2 separate regions of the Homo sapiens genome follow, and region 2 is linked to region 1. Evidence: fine-mapped expression QTL. A gene starts in region 1. The other region holds a variant in brackets. All regions are shown on one strand. Distances are from middle to middle.

Region 1 (2,908 bases):
CCAAAGCAAATATGGAACATGTGAAAAAGCACAAGGTCAAAAATTAGAACATGGCACGAACACAGTAAAGAGAAGAAAATGAGCTGTTGCAAGACAGGAAAACAATCATGGATGTTCCAAAAGAAATAAAAGCAGGTGGTGAATGTGTCAAACGCTCCAATGATCAAGTAAACAACTTACACTGGATTTAGCAAATTTATATATTTCCTTGATTTTTTTCACACATTAATGCTTCAGAAATCAGACTGTATCTTATAATCAAGAGGTGCCTGAAATGAATTTCTTTATTCCCTAAAGCCAGTCACAAAACTGATAGTGTGGGCTGATAATCAATGGTATTTGAGAAGCGAGAAAGCATGGTAGTGGTAAAGAAGTTGAACCAGTATATGTGGTCTATTTTTTCCAGGAAGTTTTCAAGTAAAGGCAAGAGTCAAGAAAGGAGGTCCTGTGTTTGCTTTTTAAAAACCGTTTTACTATGAGACAAACGTATTTGAAAGCAAGGAAGTTAGAAGAAACTTTAAAACGATAAAGGACACATGCCATGACAAGCACAATTAGCAGAACAAAAAAGGATGCACTCGCGGATACAGGTGCAATCAAACACCATTCAAGCAACGATTCCTAGGCACCCGCTCCCGTTCTGGAACCCGAGGCAGCGCGGTGCCCACGGATTGGGCAGTCAGCCGCACAGTCCCCTCCGAGTGCGGCAGGAAGAGAGACAGAGTTGACAGTGGATTATCCGCGGAGACGGGTAAAACCACGCCAGGATTCCCTGCGGTTTGGTACATTACACCAGAATCAAAAAGAGACAAGAGTAAGGCCAAGTACCCCCGAGGCGGACATATGCTCCCGCCCGCTGCGTCCCTCGGCGGTCCCACCCCTCGCTTTCCGTACCGCCGCTGAGGGCCCGGCCCGCACGCCTGGACCGGAGCCGGACCTGGGGGCGGTACCCCACTGCGCGGGCTTGCTCCACGCGCGCAGACGGGACCCGCCACCACCTAGCCCTTCACCCCCAACGCCCACCCTCTCTCACCCCAGCACAACGGGGCCAGCCCCGCGCCGGCCCGCCGCTTCCCCGCAACGCGGGAAACGGCGCGGCGCCCACTCCCGCCCCAGAGCCTACCTTAGAGCCCCGAGCGCGGCTGCCGCGGGGCATCTCCGGGAGCGCCGCCTGAGCGCACCGCCTCCTCAGCGCGCCGCCGTCCCACCTCGGCGCGCCGCACCGCGCCCTGCCATTGGCGGGCGCTCGGGCGCAGGGCGGGGCTTCGGCGGGGGGCAGGGCTTCTCCGGCCCCGGCGCTCCAGGGCCTCCCGGATGGCCTAGTCGGGCCCGGAGCCCGGAAGGAGTGCCCCGCGGAGAGTCGAGCTTCCTTCCCCGGGGCTGGGGGTTCCGCGGAGCTCGCTCTGGGCTGTGGCGTTGCTCGCCCGCGAGCTCCTGGGGAGTTCGGGGGAGCTGCTGGGCTGGTGCCTGGAGCGGGGGCCGCCTCCAAGTATTGTCTTTCGAATTAAGTTACTGTCGTCTGTGTTGTCAGGCAACAACTGACCTTAAATAAAAATGAAAACCAGAAGTAGGCTACACATGCAATAGGCTACACATGCAATAATGGATACTTAAGGAATGGGAGTGGCTGCTGGTGACTGGAGCAGAGAGGGTGTGGTTTCCCCATGTTTCGGGGCCGGGGGGAAGGAGTAAAGTCTGTGTTCAGAGCCCAGACGCCATGTCGGTCATCACATCACCGGGAGAACTCGTGGAGCCTGAGGAAAGGCTACGGGGTGCCAGAGTCTGAAGGGGCGGAAGATTGCATTCCTATCACGTTCGCCGTGGCGCACAGGGGCTCCGCTGGGGCCGCCGCTCCCGCAGGAGAAGTGGGCCTGAGACGGTGCGGCGTCGACCATAGCCGGCCCAGCAGAAGCCGGGGAAGGCCACAAGTGTAACTGGGTCCGAGTACTGTGAAGAAGGCGCCTCCCATGGAGAAAGCTACCGGGTAGTTTAACAAGGTGGAAAAGCGTTGGCCTGGGGAGGAGGAAAGGATGCTCAGAAAGTTGCCTCAAAAGGACGCAGAAGTGGAGGTGAATCTTCTGTTTCAGAGGCATTTTTTTGTGCCTCTGTGAGAATGCATTGCTTCCTGGTTGATCCATCTTCAGGTTTTCTCTCCGTCCTAGTCCCTGTTCTGCCACCATTCTGTGTTTGAATCTGGTACCTAAAGCCGCAGATACTTGGTTCATAGTAGATGTCCACTCTGCAGTGGCTGAAAACACGGAAGAAAAACCATCTTTGCCTGGGAAGGACATTATTGCTAGTGCCATTACTGTCAACAGTTGGAACAAGATAAACGGCATGCCCAATCTAGTTGAGGATTTTGGACACCGGGCCTCCCACTGGGACTCCGCCGAGAAACCAGGTCTGCCATTGCCACCTCCGCCGGGCCTTGCTGTCTTAGCACAGTAAGTGCACCCGACCGCGCCCGGAGTCCCCCTTTCACTCCCACAACCAGGCCTGTGGTGAGGCTCCCGCTTGTCATCTCCACCAGGAGGTGCTGTCCTGCCGAAATGTTGGGGTTTTTCTCCAAACTTCCTCCTGTTCAGAATTCGCCATCTCAGTAGTGGCATGGACATCCACCTGGCCACAGCTCACGCAGAAACCTAGGAATTTTTGTGAACACGTTTGTGTGTCTTACTAATGTGTCCACTCTCCACTACCACTGTTTCCCAGGCCACTAGTATCTTTTGCCCAGACTGCTAGTAGCTCTTAACCCATGTCCCCTAATCCACTCTTGCCCCTCACACAGCACACACATACAATCCATTCTCAACACAGACACCACAGTGAGGTTTATGCTGTCTATACTGGCCTTCCCTTTCGGTGGTCAAACGTGCCTAGCTCCTGCAGCCTTGGGGTCTAATAAGCA
Region 2 (2,908 bases), 870 kb before region 1:
CGCACAAGCTCATTAGCAGCCACAACAAGAAACCATTTCATACCCAGCAGACTGGCAAAGATTTTAACGTTGACAATACCAGCGCTTGGGAAGGGGAAGGATGTGGAACTCTGTGCACATGCCCAGTGGAAAGTAATTGTTACAACCCATTTGGAAAAAAAAAAAAAAAAACCATTTGGAAACCAACCGAGCAGAATCTAGAAAATGTGAAGAAGGCATGTGCTCTATGACCCCTCAACTCAACCTCTGGGGAAAAAAGGGCCTTGGAGACCTGCTGTGTCTGTGCAGGAAGAGATGGAAGAGAGTGGGCACAGTGGCTCTTTCTGCAGTAGCAGAAAGCCAGACGCCAATCCAATGTCCATAACAAAAGGATGGTATACTCCTTCAACTAAAATCCAGATGGCAGGGAAAGTAGATAAATCACAGTTACACAAAAAACATGGATAAATCTCAGAGACACACAGAACTGAATGAAACTAGAAATCACAGAATAATATATAAAGTATGATTCTGTTTATTTTAAACTCAAAAATCAGAAAAACCAAACTAGCTGTTGTTTAAAATAACAAACGTGTGGAAGAACTGTGAAGAAAATCAAGGGAGGGATAAACACAAAATTTAGGATACAGTACTTGGAGGGGACAGAAGAAAGGGATGGCTCCGGAGGGACCTAGAGACCTCAAACAGGATGGTGGCCTTTTACTTAAACTGGAAATTGAGTCTACGGGCATTACACACATAGTTAAGTGCATGTTATGCATATTTTCAAAATTACAAAAATAAAAGGAAACCGAGAGGCTCCGTGGGAACCACTTGATTCTCACTGAAACTGATGGAGGGGAAGGAGGGTGCCACCTCCCTGCCATTCCCAAGGCCCGCGCTCAGGCAGCTGCTTCCGACCCCCGGGGACGCCCGCCCCGTGGACCAAACACACACTATCATTTCCTAAGTGTGGGAGCACGGGAGTAAAGGAGCACGACTGGGCCGCTCATCACTGGGAGAGGCGGGCAGGGAAGGAGCAGTAGGGGGAGAAGCGGGACAACCCCTGGCCGCCACCCTCCACCACGGTCCGCATTCTGCCGTTGGCCTCGGCCCAGCGTGCTTTCCTCTGCTAGCCAGCCAGGTCCTACTGTGTGTTGGGGGTAAGGGGGAAGCAAGGCTATTCTGAATCTCCACTCCACGGCCTCTCTCCCTCTCCTCCCAAATGCTCCTCCTTCAGGCCACATCCTGACGCAGCTGCTGACACCCTCATATTCAGCATCCACCGTAAGCTTTTTCATTTGCTCCCAGTGAACATTTTCAGGGATGTCAAGGAGGAGGAGGAAAGGGGGTGCCATCGGGAAGGGCTGGCAATGACAAGGCCAGGGATGGTGAAGAGACCCTGCAATTAGTTCCTGACCTCCATCTCACCTCAAGCCCAAGTCCTGCCATTTCAACTCAGGGAACTTGTTTCTGGCCACTGCTGGGGCCGCCTCCTCCACTGTGGGCGCTCAGCTGCCCGGTGTCCTGCCAGT[C/A]CCCTCCCTAAACCAGGATCACTGCGCGGAGGTCACCTGGAATCACCCGTACTTGTGGGTCCTAGACACCCTGTGACTCATTAATGTCCCTGGTGCCAAGAAGCTACAGCAGGAAAATTCACTACAGCAGGAAAATTTCTCTGTTATCTCAGAGAAGCCCACCTGAAGAGGCAGTCCTCGCCAGATCTCCGCTTATCGCCTCTGTGTGAGCACAAGAATTATGGTGTCTTATCAAGCAGCATTTTCCCGCCGAATTAAGGGGAACGGTCCATTTGCCCTCTGACCTTTTGGAAAAGTAACCACTGGGCGCCTTTCTGGTGTGGTGGAAAATCACAGCATAGGCGCTTCTAAAGCACAGGCTATAAAACATTCTTCATGTCTTGTTCAAATCTTCAAAGCTCCCCAGTTGAAGCTCTCAGCTTGACAGCGTCCAGCTAACTCCTCCGCCTTGAGCTCTCTGTGCCTTTGGGGCCTGGGCCGCTGCTGCTTCCTTGCAACTCCAAGGAGCCTAATCAGACTTCAGATGCCCACAAGCGCTTCTTCTTTCTTCTCTACCTCTCCCTAAAAAGAAAAAACAATCATGTTGGCAAAAGGGAAATGGAACAAGGCAAATCCAGTTTATACAAATGCATCAGAGAGGTTTAGTGCTTTTCTCCTAAAAATATTCACCCATAGGCAGGGCAGGGTGGCTCACACCTGTAATCCCAGCACTTTGGGACGCCGAGATGGGTGAATCACAAGGTCAAGCGACAGAGACTATCCTGGCCAACATGGTGAAACCCCGTCTCTACTAAAAATACAAAAATTAGCTGGGTGTGGTGGCATGCACCTGTAGTCCCAGCTACTCGAGAGGCTGAGGCAGGAGAATCGCTTGAACCTTGGAGGTGGAGGTTGCAGTGAGCCGAGATCGCGCCATTGCACTCCAGCCTGGCGACAGAGCGAGACTCCATCTCAAATATATATATATATATATTCACCCATAAATCTGTAAAAGGAAAGGCTTGTAACAAACAGCTGCATCTGTTTCTACCCCGTGTCCTCAAAGCTGATACCACACAAGATACCAAGGAGGCTTCCAAAGACTTGAGGCAGAAGTCTTCAGTGTTCAAACATCCATTACGTTTTTGAGCCACTTTTTTCATTATTTAGGTCAATAAAGTCCAGTAACCAAAAGAAAGCAGGAAGGAGGGGTCAAAAGCCAGAAAGGAGCTGTGATCTATGAGTGGTTATAACACCCTGGCCAAAGCAAGGACATCCAACTAAACTTAGACAACATCATAGTGATTAAACAGTCCCAAAAATGATCAGAAATGTGTGACATTTGGTCCAGGCGTGGTGGATCATGCCTGTAATCCCAGCACTTTGGGAGGCTGAGGTGAGTGGATGACCTGAGG

The links. PIP is the estimated chance that this variant, and not a neighbour inherited with it, causes the effect. A credible set is the group of variants that fine-mapping cannot tell apart.
Region 2: its variant is the best candidate, but not a certain one, in a credible set for the expression of SPIDR in whole blood (INTERVAL, PIP 0.63).

Annotation. Positions count from the first base shown.
Region 1 is chr8:47,259,207-47,262,114 of GRCh38, reverse strand. It overlaps SPIDR (scaffold protein involved in DNA repair), which reads right to left and starts at 1,177. Exons shown (of 20, transcript NM_001080394.4): 1 at 1,124-1,177. The coding sequence starts at 1,156. RefSeq lists a silencer at 914-1,463.
Region 2 is chr8:48,129,158-48,132,065 of GRCh38, reverse strand. No RefSeq gene overlaps it. Among named protein-coding and RNA genes, the nearest start is that of UBE2V2, 120 kb to the right of the region's middle. RefSeq lists an enhancer at 1,060-1,644. The variant C/A (reference allele first, on the strand shown) is at 1,515.